Regions from separate parts of the Homo sapiens genome. Here regions 1, 2, 3 and 5 are each linked to region 4. Evidence: fine-mapped expression QTL. A gene starts in region 4. Each other region holds a variant in brackets. All regions are shown on one strand. Distances are between the middles of the regions.

Region 1 (5,107 bases), 290 kb before region 4:
CACTCTTAACTTGTTGCATAGCACTCTGACCCCTGAGATGGCAATATCATACATCGGAGTGGCTGTGAAATGGAACATGGGGGTTGAACATAATAAATGTAAGTTTCTTGGAGGTCACTTCTGAGCAGCAGATGAAAATTGTAGTAGTCCATTCTCACACTGCTGAGACTGGGTAATTTATAAAGGAAAGAAGTTTAATTGACTCACAGTTTTGCAAGGGAGGTCTCAGGAAACTTACAATCATGGTGGAAGGGGAATCAAACACGTCCTTCTAATTACATGGTGGCAGGAAAGAGAAGAATGAGAGCCAAGTGAAGAGGGAAGCCCCTATAAGACCATCAGATCTTGGCCAGGCGCGGTGACTCACACCTGTAATCCCAGCACTTTGGGAGGCCGAGGCAGGCAAATCACTTCAGGTCAGGAGTTTGAGACCAGCATGGCCAACATGGTGGAACTCTGTCTCTACTAAAAATACAAAAATGAGCCGGGCATGGTGGCACAACCCTGTAGTCCCAGCTACTCAGGAGGCTGAGGCGGGAGAATCGCTTGAACCCAGGAGGCAGAGGCTGCAGTGAGCTGAGATCATGCCACTGCACTCTAGCCTGGGTGACAGAGCAAGACACTGTCTCAAAAAAATAAATAAACATTTTTAAAAATAATAAAACCACCAGATCTTGTGAGAACTTATTATTATGAGAATAGCATGGGCGAAACTGCCCCCATGATTCAATCATCTCCCACTGGATACCTCTCACCACACATGGGGATTATGGGAACTACAATTCAAGATGAAATGTGGGTGCGGACACAGCCAAACCATATAAAAAAATTATAGGTAATAGGTAACTAAGTTATTAAATATTTAGAAATTTTGAAAACAGCTATGCACTATCTTCCCAGAAACCTGCACATATAACAGAAAGTTATTCATGAGCTTCCTAGGGGTCTCTCCTGAGCAAAAGTTCTTGACAATTTTGCATCATTAGAGTAGCAATCATTTTGAAAATGTGACAAAAACCATGAATCTTCATGCCAGAAGTATGCGCACACCCACCTACAGCCATAAATTTGAATATCTCAGGCAGCTAATGAATTCCCTGTAGCTCATTTATGGGACTCAAGTTAGCAGTGGGCTGCAGGTGGTTCTGAATGTTTATTGCCTAGTTACCTGACACTAAAAACTGTGCTCAAGAGGGCAGAGTAAGGGGCTCCACAATGCAGAGGAGCCTAAACTGATAAAGAAGCAAGCAGCTATTTATCCTGGCAACACTCCCTAAGTTCCCTCCATCTATGTGGTTACACAGCTGGGTTGTCTGTCACTCTGTCAGGTCACATATGGTTGATAATAGTTAGACACTTATTCACTTAGTCAACTAGACAGGCAGCTAAGATACAGTATCATTCTTTCAAACAACAGACAGGAAAGAAAAAGGTGTGCTGGGTGAGTGCTGAAGCGTGAAAATGCTCCTCATCTGCAGAGTCACCACACGCAGCAGTGTGGAAACCCTGCGGAAACAGGCTGCCTATGTGCCTGTAGTGACATAAGGAGCCTAAAGAAGGAGGTGAGCAGGAAATCTAATTCCTCCAGGGTCTCCAGGTGATCCTACCATTTGTTGGAACAAAAGTTTAGACACAGGTAAAAAAGATCTATAAAGCAGAGAGGGGGGAAAAAAAGGAGCATTAAAAACATTTAGGGCCCGGAAAACATTCCCTAGTGGGTGATGTGGTACTGGGTGGGGAGTATTCTCTGGACATTGGTCAGCACAGAGGGAAACTAGGAAAGGCCTGAGCCCCATATGGCTAGACTGTGTCTCTGGGTTTCCACAGAAGGAATCTAGGCCAGTGCATTGAATTGGTTATACCTATGGGCACCTGATTGAGACAAAATTAAATGAAATTCTAATCACAATCTTAAAGGATTTCTTAAGAGGGGCTTAGAATTCTAAACATTGTAAGGAAAAATCAAAATTATCAAAACAAGTACAAGAATGGTTTGGTAAAAGCAAAAAGATACCAGAAACATGACAAAAGGACACAGGAACAATTTAAATGCCCCACAGGCTTCGTCTCAGATGATTTGAGAATAAAAAACAAACAACCATACTAGCTAAGCATTATAACCCACTGAATACAGAAAGCTGAATCTATACAGACATAAATAAAAATAAATAATAAATGCTGGAAAAAAGAAAACTATTTTCTATACCATGATAAACACGTGAGGAATAATGGAACTAAAAATAACAGGTTTTGCGACTGTGGTAATAAGTGACTTGGGCAATGATCAGGAGTAAACACTAAAAGTAATGAGTAGTGACTTGAGGATTGAGAGGATACATGCATAGCCTGAACATATCTCCTCACAAGATTTTTCTTCTAATTTTGTTAGATACAAGGTCTTGCTTTGTCACCCAGACTAGACTGCAGTGCCGCCATCATAGCTCACTGCATCCTCGAACTCCTGAGCTCAAGCGCCTGTAATCCCAGCTACTCAGGAGGCTGAGGCAGGAAAATTGCTTGAACCTGGGAGGCAGAGGTTGTAGTGAGCTGAGATCGGCCACTGCACTCCAGCCTGGGTGACAGAGGGAGACTGTCTCAAAAAAAAAAAAAAA[G/AG]AAAAGAAAAAAGAAAAGAAATCTCAACACTTCTGTTACTTATGCTGTATGTCTACAAAAGGTAGATAACCTAAATGTAATCACAAGGCAACATCAGACAAATCCTGTCATTTACCAGATGAGTAATGAAGAGTTGTGGGCAATAGCTAATGATCAGTCAGGATGTTGTCAGGGGTTTCTCCCATGAGGCTTTTGATATCGTTTGGGCGTCTGCCTCCTTCAAATCTCATGTTGAAATTTGATCCCCAATGTTGGAGGTGGGGTCTAGTGGGAGGTGTCTGGGTCATGGGGGTGGATCCCTCGTGATCAACTTGATGAGTGAGTTCTCACTCTATTAGGCTGCACAAGATCTGATTGTCAAAAAGATCCCGGCACCTCCCTTCTCTCTCTCTTTCCTCGTCTTTCCAAGTGAAGCCTGCTACCCCTCTTCCCCTTCTGTCATGGGTGGAAGCAACCTGAGTCCCTCACCAGAAGAAGATGCTGGTGCCATGCTTCTTGTACAGCCTGCAGAACCATGAGTCAAATCAACCTTTTATCTTTATAAATTACCCGGCCTCAGGTATTCCTTTATAGCAATGCAAATGGACTAAGACACATATCAACTTCACGCTTTTCAAGGAAGTCATATTCTTAGCTTGTATCAGCTGAGGGATGTCTAGGATATGTCAGTAACAAGTAGACCCAAACCTATAACAGCTCAGCAGAGAACAAGTTTGTTTATTCCTCATAAAAGGCTGCCAGAGAAGTAAGATGAGGAAACTGTTCCACACAGTGATTCTTGAACCTTGGCTCCTTCCATGTGGTATTTTTCATCTCTAGTATAGGAACAAGGAGAGCAAAAAAACATATAGAATGAAGATATCTCTCATAGGACTTGTTTTACCACTGAAATCCACATTCCACTACCCCATATAGATGGAAGAGTGGTTGTTGGCCTAGGGACAAAAGGAAATAGTTCTTGGTGAACACACAAGAATATGCAAACACGCAAGTAGGTGCCATAGGGGTCTCTTTTATTTACTTTATATATATATATATCACATTGTGTGGCTGCATTCTGGAAGAAGGATTTCCCACATCCATTACCTTCATATGATTTATTTGGTCTGGTTGATATACTATGAGGTCTCTACTGCTGCATACATTTTCTTTGAGATGGAGTCTTGCTGTGTCACCCAGGCTGGAGTGCAGTGGCACAATCTCAGCTCACTGCAACCTCTGTCTCCTGGGCTCAAGCAATTCTTCCTGCCTCAGCCTCTTGAGTAGCTGGGATTACAGGCACCCACCACCAAACCTGGCTAATTTTTGTATTTTTAATAGAGACGGGATTTCACCATGTTGGCCAGGCTGGTCTTGAACTCCTGACCTCAGGTAAACCACCCGCCTCAGCCTCCCAAAGCACTGGGATTACAGGCACGAGCCACTGCACCCAGCCTGTATACATTTTCTGTTGCACTGAGAAAGGTGGGTTTGAGCTGAGATTACCATACATTTATTACATCCTAGGTTTTCTCCATCGTTTAAATTCTCTGCTCAATGACGTTCAATCAAGGACAGAAAGCATCCATCTTTTCATTTCTTTCTCAGGATTCCTCCATAGTGTAAGTTTATAAGGGTTTAGTTCACATAGGATATTTTCTATATTCATTACCTTCATAGCGTTTCTTTCCTGGGTGAATTATCTGACTCCAATACGGACTAAGCTTATACTTAGTGGCTACAAGACTATCCACATGCAATACATTTCAAGGCTTTCCCTCCAGTGAAAGTTCTCTTATGTTGGCTGGGCATAGTGGCTCACACCTGTAATCCCAACACTTAGTGAGGCTGAGGTAGGAGGATCCCTTGATCCCAGGAGTTTGAGACCAGCCTGGGCAACATAGTGAGACGCTAAGAAAAACATTTTTTAAAAATTACCCAGGCATGGTGGTATGCACCTGAAACCCCAGCTGCTCAGGAGACTGAGGCAGGAGGATCACTTGAGCCTCAAAGGTTGAGGCTACAGTGAGCCATGATTGCATCACTGCACTGCAGCCTGGAAGAAGAGCAAGACGCTGTCTCAAAACAAAAAGTTACATGTTTAGTGAGAAACTTCCACGTTCATTTGGTAAATAGGTTTTCATCCCCTGTCTGAGTTCTCCAGTCTTTTCTTAGCTCTGACTTGTGGCTGAAAGTTGTCCTACATTCATCACCTTTATAGAATTCCTCCCATGAGTTCTCTGATGTTCTTGGAAGTGTGATTTCTGCCTAAAAGTACTCCAAGATCCATGACACCGGCAGGCCCATTCACATGTGTGAGTTCTCTGATACAGTGCAAGGTTTAATGTGTGGCTGAAAGCTTTTCCACACTCATTATGTTTATAAATTTAATCCCAGTGAGTTTTCTGATACTTTTCATGTTTTTACTTCTGGTAGAAATCTTCCCTACTACATCATATTTATAGGATTTCTTCATTGTGGGATTTATCTGATGGCTTTTTACAACTGAAAACTCT
Region 2 (5,107 bases), 31 kb before region 4:
AAAAAAAAAAAAGAATGCTTTATGAATTCTAGATACAAGTCCTCTTTAGTTGAGACAAATGACCACCCTCCCCCCAAAAAAGGCAAGGATCTGAGTGAACATTTTTCCAGAGAAGATATACAAATAGGCAGTAAGATGTTGCACATCATTAGCTATTAGAGAAAGACAAGTCAAAACCACAGAGCTGCACCAGTCCACACCCAGTGGGATGGTTAGAACCAAAACGACATTTGACAAGCGTTGGGGAGGATGTGGAGAAACTGGAACCCACATACACTGCCAGTGGGAATGTGAAATGGTGTAGCCTCTTTGGAAAGCAGTCTGGCGGTTCCTCAAAAATCTAAGCTGAGTTAGCCTCTGACCCGGAAATTTCACTCCTGGGTTTATACCCAAGAGAAATGAAAACACACATCCACATGAAAACTTAAACCCAAGTGTTCACTGCAGTGCTATTCATAATAGCCAAAAAGTGGACACAACCTAAATGTCTATTAACTAATGAGTGGATAAACCAAATATGGCACATTTTTTGGAATATTATCTGGCAATAAAAAGAAACAAAGTATTAATACACATTACGACATGAACAAACCTTGAAAAAATGATGCAAGTGAAATAAACCAGGCAGAAAAGACTTCTGTGTATGATTCCATTTACATGAAATATTCAGAGGAGCCAGATTCACACAGACAGGAGGCAGGTCAGTGGTGGCCAGGGCTGCAGGGAGGGAGGATAGGGAGTGACTGCTGAATGGGCATGGGGTTTCCTTTTGGGATGATAACAACCTTCTGGAGCCAGATCATGGTGATGGTTGCATAACACTCTGAATGTACTAAATGCCACTGAATTGTACACTTTAAAAGGATTAAAATCGTAGATTTGAAAATCATCACAAAAATACACACAAAAAAAGAAAAACAGAAATGAAGACTGGCACATGCTACAACATGAATGAAGCTGAAAACTTGATGCTAATAGTTAAAATAAGCCAGGTGCAAAAGGAACATTGAACGATTCCACTTAGATGAGGCACCTAGAATAGGCAAATTCATAAACACGAGTAAAATAGAGATTACTACATGCTGAGGAGAAATGGGGAGTTAGTGTTAAATGGATATAGAGTTTCTGTTTGTGATGAAAAAGTTCTACAAGGCCAGGCACAGTGGCTCAAGCCTGTAATCCTAGCACTTTGGGAGGCTGAGGCAGGCGGATCATGAGGTCAGGAGTTCGAGACCAGCCTGGCCAATACGGTGAAACCCCGTCTCTACTAAAAAATACCAGAAAAATTAGCCGGGTGTAGTGGAATGTGCCTGTAGTCCCAGCTACTCAGGAGGCTGAGGCAGGAGAATCGCTTGAACCCGGGAGGTGGAGGTTGCAGTGAGCCGAGATCGCACCACTGCACTCCAGCCTGGACAACAGAGTGAGATTCCATCTCAAAAAAAAAAAAAAAGTTCTAGAGATGGATGGTGGTGATGGTTACACACAATATGAATGTTACTGATGCCATTAAATTATATATATTAAAATGGTAAAAATGGCAATTTTTATGTTATTTTTACTGCAATTTTAAAAAATTAATAATGTAACATACCCCAAACCATCCATCCATGCATTCAGTCGTTTACTCATTTATTTGTTTGATACAGGCTGGGTTTCACTCTGTTGGCCAGGCTGGAGTACAGTGGCATGATGATGGCTCACCATACCTTCAACCTCCTGAGCCCAAGGATCCTCCCACCTCAGCTTCCTGAGAGTAGCTGGGACTACAGGTACGAGCCATCAGGCCCAGCTAATTTTTACAACCATTTTGTAGAGACGGGGTCTCTCCATGTAGCCCATGCTGGTCTTGAACTCCTGGCCTCAAGCTATCCTCCTGCCTCTGCCTCCCAAAGTGTTGGGATTACAGATCTGAACCA[C/T]CACACCTGGCCTATATACTTAGAGATTTGAGTGCTATAGTACGAGAATTATATCTCAAAAGTGTTTAAGGGGAAAAAACAGGCCGGGCGCGGTGGCTCACACCTATAATCCCAGCACTTTGGGAGGCCGAGGCAGGTGGATCATGAGGTCAGGTGTTCAAGACCAGCCTGACCAACATGGTGAAACCCCGTCTCTACTAAAAATACAAAAATTAGCTGGGTGTGGTGGCACACGCCTGTAATCCCTGTAATCCCAGCTACTCGGGAGGCTGAAGCAGGAGAATTGCTTGAACCCGGGAGGCGGAGGTTGCAGTGAGCCAAGATGGCACCACTGCACTCCAGCCTGGGCGACAGAACAAGACTCTTTCTCCAAAACAAAACAAAACAAAACAGTAGGTGGGGAGTGGGGAATCAAATCTGTATCTTCACTGAAGAGCTGATGTAATTTAAGGTTCTATTATAGAAATACACAGATCAATGTTATGAAAAATATAAGCAAAATCAGTAGAGAAACCTAACCACAGAGCATCCAAAATAGACAAATTTGCAGTGACTCTACAATACCAAGCTGATGGTAGAAAAAACATCAAAGCAAAGATAACATGAAGGAATATGAAAGAACTTTCTGGCGTGATTGGTAATGTTCTGTATTCGACAGGAGTTTGGATTCCACAAGTACATGCATTTGTCAAAACAGTGAATGTACACTTAAGATTTATACATTTCATAGTATATACATTTTATATCAGAAGAAAAAATTGTAAACAAATATTAATTCTATTTAGTGATATGCATGTTGAACTATTTAGGGGGAAGTGTACAGATGTCTACAATTTATTATGAAATGTGTCAAAAAACATGGACTAATGAATACTTATGTAAAATGAATATATAAGATATAAATGGTAGCATTTAGGTAGTGGTAAGTATAGATGTTCGCTATAAAATTCTTTAAACTTTGCTGTGTTTTGAAATTTTCACAATAAAATGCTGGAAAAATACCAATATCAAAATATAGATCTCAAATATATATTGGCAAAAATATTAAAAGATACTAAGACATTGGAACAGCAAATTAATGGAAATAACCCAAACCTATCTAGAAAAGAACTTGGTGAAAAAACTATAGTATAGCAGCTAAAAAAGGAATGAGGACTATCTGTATATACTGCTATGGAGCACCTTCCAGAGTGAATGAGAAAAAAGCAAGGAGGGGTGTACAGTACCTTGGAGAGCCACACAAATATATATGCATAGCACCGATAGAGATAGATAGTTTTTTTGTTTTGTTTTGTTTTGAGACAGGGTCTCACTCTGTCACCCAGGCTGGAGTGCGGTGGTATGATCTCTGCTCACTGCAACCTCCACCTCCTGGGCTCAAGGGATCCTCTCACTTCAGCCTCCAGAGTAGCTGGGACTACAGGCATGCACCACCATACCCAGCTAATTTTTGTATTTTTTGTAGAGACTGGGTGGGGGAGGGTCTCACTTGTTGCCTAGGCTGGTCTCAAACTCCTAGGCTCAAGCAATCCACCCACTTTGGCCTCCCACAGTGCTGGGATTACAGGCATGAGCCACCGCACCCGGCCAGCATTTTTTTTAAATTGGAATATAAGCCAGGAAAACAATAGGGATAAAAGCTATTTGAAAATACCATGTTTTGGCTGGGCACGGTGGCTCCTGTCTGTAAACCCAGCACTTTGGGAGGCCAAGGCCAGTTGATCACCTGAGGTCAGGAGATCGACACAGGCCTGGCCAACATGGTGAAATCCCGTCTCTCCTAAAAATACAAAAATTAGCTGGGCATGGTGGCAGGCACCTGTAATCCCAGCTACTCGGGAGGCTGAGGCAGGAGAATCGCTTTGAACCCGGGAGGCGGAGGTTGCAGTGAACTGAGATTGCATCACTGCACTCCAGGCTCGGCAAGAGTGAAACTCCATCTCAAAAAGAAAAAAAAAAAATCATGTTTTTCAGACTGAACTTTGGAAACATGTAAATATTTTACATAATTATAAAACAGATTTAAATTAAAATTCAATCTCTAAAATTTGAAAGTAAAATGAATCAAAGTAACCTAAATGTTTATGAAACTGGTGATATAACCATCAAGAGAACTATTTCAAATGATTTTGAAATACAAATTTGATTACTCATCTCCCTCCTCGACATAACTTTTCAGTAACTGTGTTACTGAAGGTAATGTTGGTAATGCTGTGACTGTTTTATGTGCAACAAATGATTAAAAGCACAATGTTACTCAGAACTAGAATTTTCAGTATGTAAGAAAAGGAGAAACAAGCAGTCTAGGTAAAAATCCCATATCTTAACTTCGAATTGGAAATATTGAATGAACTCATATTTTATCTTATAATGTGTATGTGTGTATTTCCCATCTCTGTCCACCCAAATGCCCTGGAAACAATCAAGTCCCTGGTGGCAGTGGTTCTTTATCAAAGCAGCTTTACTAAAGAATACAGATGGGAAATACCACACAAAAAATGCTCAACATTATTAGTCATTAGGGAAATGCAAATTAAAACCACAATGAAGCTAGACACGGTGGCCCACATCTGTAATTTCAGCACTCCAGGAGGCCGAGGCAGCACTTGAGGCCAAGAGTTGGAGACCAGCCTGGGTACCAAAACGAGACCCCATCTCTACAAAAAGTAAAAAATAAGCTGGACATCAGGAGGCTGAGGTGGGAGGATCATTTGAGACCAGGAGTTCGAAGTTACAGTAAGCTATGATCACACCACTGTACTCTAGCCTGGGTGACAGAGCAAGATCTTGTCTCTAAAAAAAGAAAAAAAAAAAAACGATGACAACAAAAACCCATAATGAGATATGTACCTATTAAAATGACTGAAAGTTATAAAAACTGACCATAGCAAGTTCTAGCAAGGATGTTGGAAAAGAGTTCAGCAGCTTCTTACAAAGTGAAATATACGCATACCATTTGGTCCAACCATTCCACTCCTAGGTATTTACCCAGGAGAAATGAAAGTGTATATCCATATAAACACTTGTATATTAAAATGTTCAGGACGGGCACGGTGGCTCACGCCTGTAATCCCAGCACTTTGGGAGGCCGAGGAGGGCGAATCACAAGGTCAGGAGTTCGAGACCAGCCTGGCCAACATGGTGAAACCCCGTCTCTACTAAAAATACAAAAATTAGCTGGGTGTAGTGGC
Region 3 (5,107 bases), 24 kb after region 4:
CATATATACGTATATGCATATATATACATATATACATATATATACATATATATACATATATACACATATATACACAATATACATACATATACATATATACACATATACATATATATACATATATACACATATACATATGTACATATATACATATATACATATGTACATATATACATATATACATATATACATATATATACATATATATATGTAGTCTGTGTCAGAGCTGGAAGAAGTGGATATTCAAGACGTTTTTAATGAGCCTTGTTCCTTCACTAACTGAGGGTGAAATATCTGAGTTGGTTCTGAACCAAGGTGATCGTGATAACAGTGACAGTGAAGATGATGATGTTAACACTATAGAAAAAGCACCTATAGAGGACCTGGTGAAAATGTATGATGGGCTTATTGAAAACTAGGGCAGTGTGCATTCACAACCAAACAAGAAATCATGTCAATTCATAAAAATCAAGAGAGACGTCTAAGACAGAAACTGGCCGGGGTGATGGCTCATGCCTGCAATCCCAGCACTTTGGGAAGCCGAGGCGGGTGGATCACCTGAGGCTGGGAGTTCGAGACCAGTCTGACCAACATGGTGAGACCCCGTCTCTACTAAAAATACAAAATTAGACAGGCGTGGTGGCACATGCCTGTAATCCTAGCTACTCAGGAGGCTGAGGCAGGAGAATTGCTTGAACCTGGGAGGTGGAGGTTGCAGTGAGCCAAGATCGCGCCATTGCACTCCAGCCAGGGCAACAAGAGTGAAATTCCATTTCAAAAAAAAAAAAAAAAGACAGAAACTGTTGTTAATGAGGCAGATGATGCTGAATGAAACATTTTCAAAAGCCATCCAGCAGATGCCTCCTCACCCCTATGGGACCCACTTCCTGATCCTTTAACTGCTACTGATGTTTTTTTTTTTCACTGAAAAAAAGAAGATACAGTGTACAGCCTTTCAATCAAAAGGTAGTATCATAGGTAGAGACCAGAAGCTGCTGTTGTTTAGCCACTGATGCAGGTATCTGGTGATGCTATCTTGGGTGCCCTGAACACATTATTTTTTCACTGCATTAATGAAATGTCATATTTTTTACTGGTAAGTACGTATGTGTGAGTTTAAGAAAATGATTGGTTATTGGTATCATATAAATGCAGAGTCAGGAAGCATGGGGATGTCCACATTGGTGGCTGAGATAGTGACATCTTCGCCTCTGATGGTTCAACATACACACACCTTTATTTTTATTTAAAACGTTGTATACAATTACCTTCAGGCTACGTGTATAAGGTGCACATGAAATGTAAATTAACTTCATGTTTAGATTTAAGCCTCATCCCCAAGATATCTCATTATGTATATGCAAAAATTCCATAATCCAAAAAAATCTGAAATCCCAAACACTTCTGGTCCCAAGCTACCTGGGAGGCTGAGGCAGGAGAATCGCTTGAACCTGGGAGGTGGAGCTTGCAGTGAGCCGAGATTGCGCCAGTGCACTCCAGCCTGGGCGACAGAGCAAGACTCTGTCTCGAAAAAACAAAAAACAGAAATCAAACAAACAAACAAAAACCCAGGCAAACAGACTGGTAGAACAGAATGTAAAGTTAGACCCAAATACATATGGAAACTTAGTATATGAAAAAGGTGGCATTTCAGATCACAAGGATAAAGATAAATTTTTAAATAAAGTCATGTGATAAAAATTTCATGAATGAAGTCAAAAGACAACTGATGACAGCTTGGGAGAAAATATTCACAACATATACTACAGACAAAAGGGCAATGTTCTCATATATATAGAATTCTTAAAAAAAATTAAGAGACAGCTTGGCACGGTGGATCACGCCTATAATCCCAGCAGTTTGGTAGGCTGAGGTGGGTGGATTGCTTGAGCTGAGGAGTTTGAGGCCAGCCTGAGCAACAAGGCGAGACCATGTCTGTATCAAAAAAGATGCAAAACTTAGCTGGGCATAGTGTTGTGCACTTGTAGTCCCAGCTATTTGGGAGGCGAAGGTGGGAGGATTGCTTATGCCCGGGAGGTTGAGGCTGCAGTGAGCCATGATTACACCACTGCACTCCAGCCTGGGTAACAGAGTGAGTGCAGCTGCTTTGGAAAAGTTAAGTCGGATCCCCAAAATGTTAAACCCACGGCTGCTCTATGACCCAGCAATTCCACACCTAGGTATAACCAAAAATAAAAATAAAAACATATATCGACATAAAAACAGACACACGAATGTTCACAGCACCACTGTTCATAATAGGCAAAAAGTGGGAGCCACTTAAATATCCATCAAGTGATGAATAGATAAGCAAAATATAGTATAGCTATACAATGAAATATTATTTCTCCGTAGAATGGAGAAAGGATTCTCCATTGGCGCCCAGCCAATTTCGTAATTCTGACCAATTCGGAATTATGAAAAACAAGGGGCTGGGTGTGGTGGCTCACGCCTGTAATCCCAGCACTTTGGGAGGCTGAGGCGGGCGGGTCACGAGGTCAGGAGTTCGAGACCAGCCTGGCCAATATAGTGAAACCCCATCTCTACTAAAAATACAAAAAATTAGCCGGGCTTGGTGATGGGTGCCTGTAATCCCAGCTACTTGGGAGGCTGAGGTGGGAGAATCGCTTGAACCCGGGACACAGAGGTTGCAGTGAGCCGAGATGGCACCATTGCACTCCAGCCAGGGCAATAGTGTGAGACTTTGACTCAAAAAAAAAAGGAAAAACAAGGAGCCACTGAGCCACTGAAGAACTGTTACTCACTGCAGGGAACTAAGGACAAATAATCCCTAAATGCTATGTAAGATCCAGACAGGATCTTGGAACAGAAAAAAAGACATTAGTGGAAAAAAAGAAAAAGATTAAAATAGAATAAGGGGTGTAGTTTAATAAATAATATGGTACACATGTTAATTTCCTGGTTTTGATACGTGGTTGTGGTAATATAAGATGCCAGCATTAGGGGAAGTTGAGTGAGGTATG[T/C]GTGAAAAATTTACTATTTTTGCAACTTTTCTGTAAGCCTCAAATAATTCAGAGTAAAAAGTAAAAGACAGAATATCAGAAAAACAACAATAATTGTACTGACAACCCACTCTCCAAAGTTGACCTCTGACACACAGAAGTGAGGAGGAATAGAATTTAAACTAAAAATGTCTATGTCCTTACTTACCTTAATTAAATGGCAATAAACATGATGAAATACCACAGTGGAAAGTCTTCCTGGATGTAAAATGTACTGACTACCTTTGGCACAAGCTTACAACTAGGGCACTCGAGATACCCGCAGATCCTAAGTGTGATAAAACGGGAAGCTGTCCCAAGAGTCAGTTCAATGACCTCTTATAAGACTTAAGTGCTTCTTGAAAGTATTATGAATCTGCTGTCCTAATTAAACTGCTTCATTTAAATCTACTTTGGATTTTATTCTAACAAGTCAAATTAGTATAATTTACAGTGTAGAGCCACATATTATTTTAAAGTTGATTCCATATCCAGCTGATAATTGATCATTGTGGGTCTAAGATAATGAAACTGATGTTTTTGTGGAGCATAAGAGAACCAATATTAGTACCTCACAGTCACTCAGTCAGTTAGTCATTTTCTTTTTCCTTTCTTTCTTTCTTTTTTTTTTTTTTTTGAGACAGAGTCTCCCTCTGTTGCCCAGGCTGGAGTGCAGTGGTGCAATCTCAGCTCATTGCAACCTCCGCCTCCTGGGTTCAAGCGATTCTTCTACTTCAGCCTCCCGTGTAGCTGAAACTACAGGTGTGCGCCACCACGCCTGGCTAATTTTTGTATTTTTAGTAAAGATAGGGTTTCACCATGTTGGCTAGGATGGTCTTGAACTCCTAAACTCATGTGATCAGCCTGCCTCGGTGTCCCAAAGTGCTGGGATTACAGGCAAGAGTCACCTGGCCCACTCAGTCACTTTCAAGATTACAGAAGGGTCAAATGGTCCAACCTCCAGATCCTTGAAGACAGTGGGGGTGTCAAGGAATGCTTAGAAGATGGGTCAGTCCCCCAAATCACCACCTGTGTCACCAAAAGCAATTCCAGAGGTGAGCAATAATAGTAGAATTCATTTGTAGGAGTAACAGAAACTTTCTCAATCTTGTGTAAGTTTTGCAAAAGTATTTACTATTTACTATTTTGTATTGGTACATAACTTATACTTTAAGTAAAAACATCATGCTTGTAGTTAGGCTCCATGGAGTCCCAGCTACTTAGGAGGCTGAGGCAGGAGGATTGCTTGAGGCCAGGAGTTTGAAGCTGCAGGGAGCTATGATGTGCCTGTGAATAGGCACTGCACTCAAGCCTGGGTAACATAGTCCTCATCTCTTAAATTAAAAAATTATATATATATGTACATATATACACACACACATATATATATGTACATATATATACTTGCTATGGAAAGATAGTTTCAAGGCAAGTCCTTGGGACAGCCTTCTGAATCGGACTGTCATTCCCAAGCTGTCTCACTGACAATTCTGGAGGCCCAAAGTCCCTATATTACTAGGAATGTGGTGATCTCAGGTTGAAGGAGGTTTGGTAGGTTATCCCTAATGTGGTTAAGCAGCTAAAAATGATTTGTTTATAGTTAGTCAAGTTATCTGTTAGCCAAGAAGATTTTACCGTGCTCCCATGAGGGGAAGACTACCTTATCTGAGGTTTACGTGGGCCCCAAGTTTAAAGTTTGGGTGATATTTTAGTCCTCTTGTTACAAAATGTCTTTTGTGGGACTCAGTCACATAGCAGGGCCTGTGCAAACTTGCAACTGTGCCCTGGAGCAGCGGTCTCCAACCTTTTTGGCACCAGGGACTCGTTTTGTGGAAGACAACCTTTCCACAGATGGAGAGAGGAAAGGGAATGGTTTTGGAGTGAAACTGTCCCGCCTCAAATTACCAGGCATTAGATTCTCAAAAGAAGCACACAACCTAGATCCCAGATCCCTCACATGCGCAGTTCACAACAGGGTTTGTGCTCCTATGAGAATCGAAAGCCACCGCTGGTCTGACAGGATGCAGAGCTCAGGCAGTAATACTTCTTTATCGCTGCTCAGCTCCTGCTGTGTGGCTGGTTCCCAATAGGCCACACAGTCCACG
Region 4 (5,107 bases):
AGTAACTACATAAATGGAAATTAATGAGCTGTTTGCTCCTGAAATAACACATACTTGAAAAAGAACTTGAATGATAAAATTTCCGTTCTAACTACAAAATCAACTAAATACCTTTAGTTGATTTCAAAAGCCAGATCACTTAGACCTAACAACTGACAGAAAAAAAAAGTTACGAGTGTACTACATGACAACATCAAGTGCAGGAAACAGGTTGCAACCCAGTTTATATCATTTAAGTTTAGAAAGAAAAGAAATAGCTCTGTGCATTTATGTATATAAATGCAAAGTGTTAGTAGGAAAAATAAGAGGATTTTCACTTAACCTCATACATTTTGGAATTGCTTAAAATTCTTAACACAAAAATGCATGACAATTTTAAAAAGGCTAAAAATCAATGTATTAACAGCACTAACTCGTCTCACGTTTTTCTGAAGCACAGAATTTTTTTTTTTTTTTTTTTGTGACGGAGTCTCGCTCTTTCTCCCAGACTGGAGTACAGTGGCTCGATCTCGGCTCACTGCAAGCTCCGCCTCCTGGGTTCACGCCATTCTCCTGCCTCAGCCTCCCGAGTAGCTGGACCTACAGGTGCCCGCCACCACGCCCGACTAATTTTTTGTATTTGTAATAGAGACGGGATTTCACCGTGTTAGCCAGGATGGTCTCGATCTCCTAACCTCGTGATCCGCCCGCCTCGGACTCCCAAACTGCTGGGATTACAGGCGTGAGCCACCACACCCGGCATTTTCATTTGTTAAAAAATAAAGGGTGAAGAAAAGCTTAGCCTTCCTCAATTCCTTTATTATATTGATGTAAATAAGTTTAAGAGAAAAAGATAAAAAACAGGATATAAAATGCACAATGTATCTCCAGTCTCACTGTTTAGATAGGCTCAGAAATTTACTGGCCTACCAAAGTGTCGTGAGATAGTAAATAACATTTTTTTAAAAATCATTTTCAACATCTTTATTGTAGTGACTTGATTCTCAAGTGATGACTCTGGATTTAGCTTTTCACAAATAAAGGTAAACATTACCCAGCTGCACATCAAAGCCCTAATACTTAAACCTGAGACGTTTCCTCAGGGCTGCGATGCACAATTTTTATCAAGCAAGGAACAAACCAATAAAGCCAAGTTGAACACACTGGCAAACGTCGGCAGGAATGGTCAACCTACACATCTTAATCCTAACACTCTGCAAACCTTGGGACCGCTGCCTCATTTCAAGAAAACAGGAAACACAGGTGGAGTGTTGCTGGCTCTGCCACTGACGCAGTTCGGTGAGAGAATGAACTCTGAAGCACCCTCCCCGTCCACAGGCAGCAGGACACCACGCTGCGCACCGGTTTTTCTTGCTAAATAGGGAGTGGGGAACTCCGAATATTCTTGCTGGAAAGGTTAAAAACGCTTTTCTTAAAGCAGCCTTGAGCTATTTATAAGTTGCACATCCCATCAACACCACACGAAGTACTGAAATACGATGCCGGCTGCCTCCTGGAAGCTACCGGACGGAGAAGGGGCGAAGGCGCCAGGCCGGACCGCGCCGGGGACCCCCGCCCGGGCCCCGACGTCACAGGCCGCCCCGCGGTCGCCCAGGCCTCCGGCATCACAGAGGCCCCCAGCCCCGGGACCAGGCGCCCTCCTCCTCCCCACCGCGCTCTCGGGTGGCTCCGACCTCAATCTTGCAGAGGCTGGGCTGGAAGATGAAGGTCCCCGCCAGGTCTGGATGTGGGAGCCCCGGGGTAGCGACCTCAGCCGTTCGCCCCCACACGCCACCCAGACAACCTCCCTCAACTTCGTCCAACTTGCCGTAGAGCCTCAGTGCCAGGGTTCGAGGGCCCTATCCCACCCCAAGCCAGCGTTTCCCCCGGAGCCCCGCACGAGGCTGGCGAGAGCTGGAAGGGGTGTGACCCCTGCCCCTCTCCTCCTACCTTCGGCGGCCACCAGGACCCTCAACTCTCCCTACTGTTCCCGGGCCCCTCCTCCTGAAACCGGCCCCCGGGACCCCAGTCTCACAGCGGGCCGAGCCGTGGTCCGCTAACCCCGCTGTCCCCGCGTACCCGGCGCCTGCAGGCCGCCCCCGGGGCTATCGGGCCGCTGAGCGACGGGCGCCGGGAGGCTCTTGCGCTCCTTCTGCGACTCCCTCCGGCCGCCCGCGCCGGCTCTGTGGCCCGAGGCCCCGGCTGGGCTCCTGCCGCCGCGGGGACCGGCCCCGGCCGCCGCCGCCGCCTCGTCGCGCCTCTTGCGCTGCAGCTGCTGCTGGCGCCGGCGCTCGGCCTCGCGCAGGATGTCGAACGGGTCCGACTCGTCGTCCAGCAGCTGATGGAAGCGGTTGGCCACCACGCAGCCGAAACTCTCCTGCATCGCGGCGCCAGCGGCAGCCACGGGACTCCCCAGAGCGCCCTTCATGCCGCCGCGACCACTGCGGGCCCGGGAGGGCAGCCCACGCGAGCGCGTCTCAGCGAAGCCGGCGGCCAGGACCCATGCCGCCCGCTCCGCCGCCACCGCCCTCCGGGCCCTACCCTGTCCGGCCCCTACCGGCGCCCGCCCCCGCGGCGCCGCCGCCGTCCGCCCCGCTGCGCCAGACAGCCAGTCAGCGCGCGCGGGTGCGCCCCCTTTCCGACACGGCGCGCCTGGAGACCCAATCACCGACCGGCTGCTGTCACGTCACGCGACCTCTGGGCCCCGCCCCGTTCGCTCAGCAGGGAGGGGCGGGGCCCAGGGGCGGAGCTACTGGCTGGTCCAGGCGGCGCCGACGAAGCGGTGGGGTCTCGGCTGTGTGTGCTTTCTCCCGGGACTGCGACCGTATTTGCTATGGGCCACTCTGCTTTGAAGCTTATGTATACATTTAGCCGTGCAACAGCTACATATTGCGCACTTACCGTGTGCCAGGCATTATGTTGTAGGAAATACTAGCTCCGTGTTGTCACAGATCTGAGTCTGTAGATGGAGAAAAAGTGCCCTGAAGGACAGGCGCAGAGCTCTCTACGGGCTGCAGCAAAGGGATCTGACCTAATTGGGAAATGACAGTTAAGCCGAGGGAGAGGGGTGACAAGGGGTTGGAGGAGGAACAGCAAGTGCAGCAGTCTTGAGGTGGGATGTGCACAGCCTATTCAAGCTCAAAGTGGTCTCTATTCTAAGAGCAGTGGGAAGCAAGTTTTGAGCATGAGCAGATTTGGGTTTGAAAAGGCCACCCTACCTGCACTGTGAACTAATAGTTTGGAGGGAAATACAAATGGATGCTGGGAAGCCAAACATGATTGTTGCAAAGCTCCAGGGAAGAGTTGATAGTGACTGGGATTAGGATGGTGGCGGTGGAGGCGAAGAGAGTAGATGGATTCAAAGACTTGGTGATGCGCTAGAGGTGGTGATGAGGGAGAAGAAGATACGGTGACTCTTATTTTCCTGGCTCCAGCATCTGAATGATAGTATTAGTTACCACTGGAAGACACTACTTTAACGGGAATCATTAATTCAGTCTGGGACACGTTGAGGTTTGGATATTTGTTTTCTTTTGAGATATTCAGTTGAGGCCTGGAGCTTAGAGAACGCCGGACTGGACTTCCTCCAGGAAATCTTTGCATAGGCAGCGGTGGAGACACGCTTGGCTGCCTATCCTACAGCCGTTCTTTCCCTCTTACATTTTTCCAGAGCCTGTATTTTGTTCAGGCATCATATTCCCCAGGGGAAGAGGGCCCCTTCCAGCCTCAAACTTGATTAATCATACATTATTCATTGCACCTGATTCCAATTCCTTGCCAGTAATTGGCTTAGGAATAGGCTGTGGGGCAAATCGGGCAGAACAGATCTGAGAAGTATTCTGGGAAAGTTTTTCTTGCACCTAACAAGGGATTGAGAAGGGATCTCCCCCCCTTCTGTTCCCTGGTCTTTGTTCCATGAGAAGACATGATGCCTCGGGTGGCTGTTCCTTAGCGTGGCCATGAGGATGGCAGAGCAGGATAGAGAAAGGCTAGATCCTTGATGAGGTTGAGCTGCCGACTGGACCCACTTGGGAACCTCCCTACTTGAGGCTTATGATGTAAGGTGACAGATGTGATTGCGCTTAGTTGTGTTTGCTTGTTTCATCCGAAAGCATCCAGTTAGAGCATCTTGCCAGGTGCTCTGTGACCAGCTTTTACTTTCCTTAATAGCAAAGGAATTCCTAATCCTAAATGCTGTAAAGTCTGTGTGTTACTCACTTATTGAATTTTGTGTTATTCCCAAGGAGGACAGGGATGATGCCTGTCTTATTCACTGCAGTATGTATTCCCAGTGCTTGGCGTTCTAAGCAGCTATAGAGTAGGTTTTCAGTAAATATTTGTTGAATGATTGAAGAATTTAAGATATTTGGTCATCTCCTTTTGAGTGAGCAAAGATTAATGCCTACGCTTTCTACCCAAAAGAATTAAAAGCAAGTGTTCAAACCAAAACTTGTACATGAGTATTCATAGCAGCACTATTCACAATAGCCAAAAGACAGAAACAAATAATATACATGTCACCCGATGAATGGATAAATAAAATGTGGTACAAAAAATATTATTTGGTCAAAAAGGAAGTATTGATACTTGTTACAACAGGGATGAAACTTGAAAACATTGTGCTAAGTGAAAGACGGACAAAAAGGGCCACACGTTGTATGATTCCATTTATATGAAATGTCCAGAATCTATAGAGACAGAAAGCAGATTGGTGGTCACCAGGTGTGGGGGTTGGGAGTGTTGGAAAGTAACTGCTTAATGGGCATGGGAGTTTCCTGTGGGGTGATGAAATGTTCTGGAACGAGATAGTGGAGATGGTTGCACAAAATTGTAAATTTAGTAAATGTCACTGAGTTGTACACTTTAAAATTGTAAAAATAGTAAATTTTGTGTAAAATTTAGTAAAAATAGTAAATTTTTTGTAAAAATAGTAAATTTATCTTAATGAACCAGAGTAAAAATAGTAAATTTATCTCAATGAACCAGAATCACTACATGCAACAGAGACCACACTTTGAGAAGCACTGCTTCAAGCTAAAGTTATCTTTGGTATCTTTAAACTGCTCATCACCAAACCACAACACCAAGGAATCATGATCATGTGAGAGAAGGGCCTGTCGTCTTCCCA
Region 5 (5,107 bases), 97 kb before region 4:
ATAAAGTGTGGCCTGTGAACTGGTGCCGATCTGTGACATTTTGTTACCAGCCTGTGTTGAGATAAATACAGAAGTTGAGAATAAGATTTTAGAAACATTTATAGTTATCGAATAGAGCAATTTTATGTCTGTAGAATCAAATAGTAGAAGAAATTTGAGCTTGTATTTTGTTTTTTTTCCCCTTTCATTTTTCTAGTAATTTATTTTATTCACAAAAATAAGATTATTGCATTACTGGATATGTAATAGTATAGTACTATTGCATTTCATATTTATCTTACAAAAGTGTCAACCTGTGATAGACTTAGTTTTTAAATTTAGTGCTTCTTCACATAGTGTTCTATAGAACTTATCAATTAGAAAGTAGTCCAATCAGAATTAATAAAGCCTGATAATATTTTGATAGAAATGACATTATATTCTTTGTATCTTGCCACTTTAAGTACATAGAATAAATATGACCAACAAAGTATTGCTAACACGACGTTGTGCAAGAATGGCATTCATTTATAGCAAATAAGTTCTTTTATGTTCTGTAGCAATGTTTTATTTAATTAGATTTAATTCAACTTAGATAGAATTCTCTCTCTCTCTTTTTTTTTTTTTTAAAGACAGATTCTTGCTCTGTCACCCAGGCTGGAGTTCAGTGGCGCAATCTTGGCTCACTGCAACCTCTGCCTCCCAGGTTCAGGGAATTCTCATGTCTCAGCCTCTAGAGCAGATGCCACCATGCCCGGCTAATTTTTGTATTTTTAGTAGAGATGGGGTTTCACTAAGTTGCCCAGGCTGGTCTCAACCCCCTGGCCTGAAGTGATCCGCCTACCTTGGCCTCCCAAAGTGCTGGGATTACAGGGGTGAGCCACTGTGCCCAGCCTTCTTTAACCACTGAGTTTTAAAGTGTGTGTGTATGTATGTGTGTGTGTATGTGTGTATATGATTTCTTATTGAGTTATATTAAATATTTCTCTGTGTCTGGTCTGCATAATTAAATAGTATAAAATATAGTTTAATTTTTTTTAAATATCATAGGATCATTGTTATGAACAGTGTGTATTTCTGTTCTCTGGTATTATCTGTTATAATACTCTTTGCTTCTTAGTTGTTTTTGTGTGTGTGGGGCTTGCCTCTGCTTCCTGTTTTCTTGAGAGGTAGTATTGTATATTTGTTAATAGCTTGACTTGACATCAGACAGATGGGAGTCTTGCTGTCAGCTCTGCTACTGACATCTCTGTGGTCCTTTACAGATTTGAGCCTTGGTCTCCTAGTCTTTAAACAGAAACAATAGGCTGGGCGCTGTGGCTCACGCCTGTAATCCTAGCACTTTGGGAGGCTGAGGTGGGCAGATCACAAGGTCAGGAGATCGAGACCATCCTGGCTAACACGGTGAAACCCCGTCTCTACTAAAAATACAAAAAATTAGCCAGGCGTGGTGGCGGGCGCCTATAGTCCCAGCTACTCAGGAGGCTGAGGCAGGAGAATGCTGTGAACCCGGGAGGCAGAGCTTGCATTGAGCTGAGATGGTGCCACTGCACTCCAGCCTGGGCAACAGAGCGAGGCTCCATCTCAAAAAAAAAACAGAAACAGAAACAATAATACATTCTCTCTCAAGGAGTTGTGAGGATGAAGTGACATCCTGCATATAAAACACTTGGTATAGGCTGGGCATGGTGGCTCATGCCTATAATTCCAGCACTTCGGAAGGCTGAGGCAGGAGGATAGCTTGAGGCCAGGATTTGGAAGATCAGCCTTGCAGCATAGCAAGACCATTTCTCTTTGGGGAAAAAAAAATTAGCTGGGCAGGGTGGCATGTGTCTGTAGTCCTAGCTACTTGGGAGACTAAGGCAGGAGGATCCCTCAAGCCTAGGAGGCTTCAGTGAGCTTTCATTATGCCACTGCACTCAGCCTGCACAACAGAACAAGACCGTATCTTTTTTTTTTTTTTTAAGACAGACTCTCGCTCTGTCACCCAGGCTGGAGTGCATTGGTGTGATCTCGGCTCACTGCAGCCTCCACCTCCTGGGTTCAAGCGATTCTCCTGCCTCAGCCTCCTGAGTAGCTGGGATTACAGGTGCCCGCCACCACACCTGGCTAATTTTTTGTATTTTTAGTAGAGATGGGGTTTTGCCATGTTGGCCAGGCTGGTCTTGAACTCCCGACCTCAGGTGATCCACCAGCCTCGGCTTCCCAGAGTGCTGGAATTACAGGCATGAGCCACTGTGCCTGGCCAAGACCCTGTCTCTTAAAAAAAAAACAAACACTTGATATAGTACCTGGCCTTTAACTAATATTTGTTAAATATTCCAACCTTCCCCCTTTTAAGTTGACTGTCATTTAGCTACTTTTTTTTGAGTCGGAGTCTTGCTCTGTCGCCCAGGCTGGAGTGCAGTGGCACGATCTTGGCTCACGGCAAGCTCCGCCTCCTGGGTTCACGCCATTCTCCTGCCTCAGCCTCCCAAGTAGCTGGGACTACAGGCGCCTGCCACCACGCCCAGCTAATTTTTTGTATTTTTAGTAGAGACGG[G/A]GTTTCACTGTGTTAGCCAGGATGGTCTCAATCTCCTGACCTCATGATCCTCCCGCCTCAGGTTCCCAAAGTGCTGGGATTACAGGCATGAGCCACCGAGCCCGGCCATTTACCTACATGTTTAAAAATCACTGTCGTGGCCGGGCGCGGTGGCTCACGCCTGTAATCCTGCCACTTTGGGAGGCTGAGGCAAGTGGATCACCTGAGGTCAGGAGTTCAAGATGAGCCTGGCCAACGTGGTAAAACCCTGTCTCTACTAAAAATACAAAAATTAGCAGGGCATGGTGGTGCACACCTGTAATCCCAGCTACTTGGGAGGCTGAGGCACGAGAATCACTTCAACCTGAGAGGCGGAGATTGCAGTGAGCTGAGATCGTGTCATTGCACTCCAGCCTGGGCGACAAGAGCGAAACTCCGTCCCCACCCCACTCCCCGCAAAAAAAAAAAAAAATTCTCTGTCTCCTAGATTTCCCTCCCACCCCTTTCCAGTCAGTCATCACCCCCAGCTAATCATTGCTCTGACTTCTACCACTATCAGTTTTGCTTGCCTTTGAACTTGATATTACTGGTATGCATTTTGGGGAGCTGTCAACTGGATTTCACATATGTAATGTCTATGAGATTTACCTGTGTTGTGGAAGGTATCAGTAGTTCATCCTTTTTTATTCCTTTTGTAGCATTCCAGTCTATGAGTATACCACAATTTATTTGCCTGTGGTCCTTTTGATGGATATTTGGGTCATTCGTAGTTTTTGGCCGTGGTGAATACGAGCTGTTACGAAAGCTGCCATTCTTTAAAACTAGTATTTGACATTGTTGTGCAGTTTCTAAGCAGTGCCCATTTATTGATTCTTACGTGTTTTCCAAATTTGTTAAATGATCTTGGTGACAAGGATCCCTCCCCACTGCCCAAGGCTTATAAACTGAGCCTCAGAGTTGCTGTTCTGCCTATTGGAAGAAGGCTGAATGCAAGGTGGGAGGAAGATGTGATGTGGGTGTGTCTAAAATTGGAGGTGCTAATGAAATACACTTGAGTGAGCAAAGATTCTTGTCGTATATTCAGATTCTATGATGTATGAGGCAGGACTTCAGCAGGGCCCAGATGAAAGCGTGTGAAATCATCACAGATTGGAGCGGGGCTGTGCCCCACAGTAGGTTCTCAAAAAAAAAAAAAAAGCATTGAAGAAATTTGCCAAAATGTCACAGAGACTGAATCAACATGTCTTTAACTTGATTGGAAAAGATTATCAGTAGGTTAAGAAGATAATCAAGCCAGGCGCAGTGGCTCACGCCTATAATCCCAGCACTTTGGAAGGCCAAGGTAGGTGGATCACGAGGTCAGGAGATTGAGACCATCCTGGCTAACACAGTGAAACTCCATCTCTACTGAAAATACAAAAAAATTAGCTGGGCGTGGTGGCAGGCGCCTGTAGTCCCAGTTATTTGGGAGGCTGAGGCAGGAGAATGTTGTGAACCCAGGAGGTGGAGCTTACAGTGAGCCAAGATCGCGCCACTGCACTCACTCCAGGGGGAGACTGTCAAAAAAAAAAAAAAAAAAGAAAATAATCATACTCCTTCACAGAGAAGACATGGTTAAAATCATTGGGATCCAACTTGAGGGTTTACCCCATTTCCATTGATAATTTTGATTTGATTTAGGCTAAAGTACTTCATTTTCCTGCCTTAGTTTCTCTACCTAAATGGGTTCTTTATTCCATGAACACCCTATTTCTACAAAACCAGGATTTGTGTTGATTTGTAGGTTGGTGATTCATAAACTTGAACACAATCACAGACAACTAGAGGACCTGTTAAGACACAAATTACCTGGCCCTATCCCGAGAACTTTGATTCAGTAGATGTGGGGTAGCCCTGAGAATTTGCATTTCTAACAGGTGGGGTGGTCCTGGTGCTGCTGGCCTGGGGACCACTGCTGGAAGTCCTTTTGTTTTTTTCTTTCTGAATATTGCCAATAAAGTGTTGGTAAAATCGTGGCCTTTTAGGTTAAAGACTTTTTCTAGGATGTGGAAGAGAAGTTTTTCACTTCAGAACCTTACAGAACAAAAATGGTGTGTTCTAAGACCTTGTGTTGGCTGAACGCAGTGGCTCACACCTGTAATCCCAGCACTTTGGGAGGCTGAGGCAGGCAGAGTGCTTGAGCTCAGGAGTTCGAGACCAGCCTGGGCAACATGGTGAAACCCCAACTCTACCAAAAAATACGAAAACTTAGCCAGGCCTGGTGGTGTGCACCTTTGGTCCCAGCTACTCCAGAGGCTGAGGTGGGAGGATCGCTTTAGCCCAGGAGGTCAAGGCTGCAGTGAGCCATGATTGCACCACTGCACTCCAGCCTGGGCAACATAGTGAGACCGTGTCTCAAAAAAAGAAAACAAGACCCTGCATTCTGTCCTCATGAAGGTTCGCATAGCTCAGTAATTCTAAGCAGCTCAGTCAGTAACATTGAAGACGATTTTAGCTAAAAAGGATGCCTTTTCTTGCCCTCATTGCTGTAGTTTTGGCCCTTAAGGTTTGAGCAAGAATTAAAAGTTTAAAATGTGGTTTAGTTTTTATTCTAACATTTGTGGAATA

Evidence for each region. PIP is the estimated chance that this variant, and not a neighbour inherited with it, causes the effect. A credible set is the group of variants that fine-mapping cannot tell apart.
Region 1: its variant is the best candidate, but not a certain one, in a credible set for the expression of HABP4 in whole blood (INTERVAL, PIP 0.56).
Region 2: its variant is the best candidate, but not a certain one, in a credible set for the expression of HABP4 in whole blood (TOPMed, PIP 0.85).
Region 3: its variant is the best candidate, but not a certain one, in a credible set for the expression of HABP4 in whole blood (INTERVAL, PIP 0.85).
Region 5: its variant is the best candidate, but not a certain one, in a credible set for the expression of HABP4 in left ventricle (GTEx, PIP 0.57).

Annotation. Positions count from the first base shown.
Region 1 is chr9:96,738,297-96,743,403 of GRCh38, reverse strand. No RefSeq gene overlaps it. Among named protein-coding and RNA genes, the nearest start is that of ZNF510, 37 kb to the left of the region's middle. The variant G/AG (reference allele first, on the strand shown) is at 2,613.
Region 2 is chr9:96,478,282-96,483,388 of GRCh38, reverse strand. All of the region lies in intron 5 of HABP4 (hyaluronan binding protein 4), which reads right to left. Among named protein-coding and RNA genes, the nearest start is that of HABP4, 31 kb to the right of the region's middle. The variant C/T (reference allele first, on the strand shown) is at 1,917.
Region 3 is chr9:96,423,844-96,428,950 of GRCh38, reverse strand. No RefSeq gene overlaps it. Among named protein-coding and RNA genes, the nearest start is that of ZNF367, 8.0 kb to the right of the region's middle. RefSeq lists an enhancer at 4,945-5,107. The variant T/C (reference allele first, on the strand shown) is at 2,985.
Region 4 is chr9:96,447,580-96,452,686 of GRCh38, reverse strand. It overlaps HABP4 (hyaluronan binding protein 4), which reads right to left and starts at 2,518. Exons shown (of 8, transcript NM_014282.4): 1 at 2,059-2,518. The coding sequence starts at 2,407. RefSeq lists silencers at 2,001-2,050, 2,131-2,190, 2,201-2,740 and an enhancer at 3,021-3,100.
Region 5 is chr9:96,544,302-96,549,408 of GRCh38, reverse strand. The region is part of intron 5 of CDC14B (cell division cycle 14B); the gene reads left to right. Among named protein-coding and RNA genes, the nearest start is that of CDC14B, 73 kb to the left of the region's middle. The variant G/A (reference allele first, on the strand shown) is at 2,522.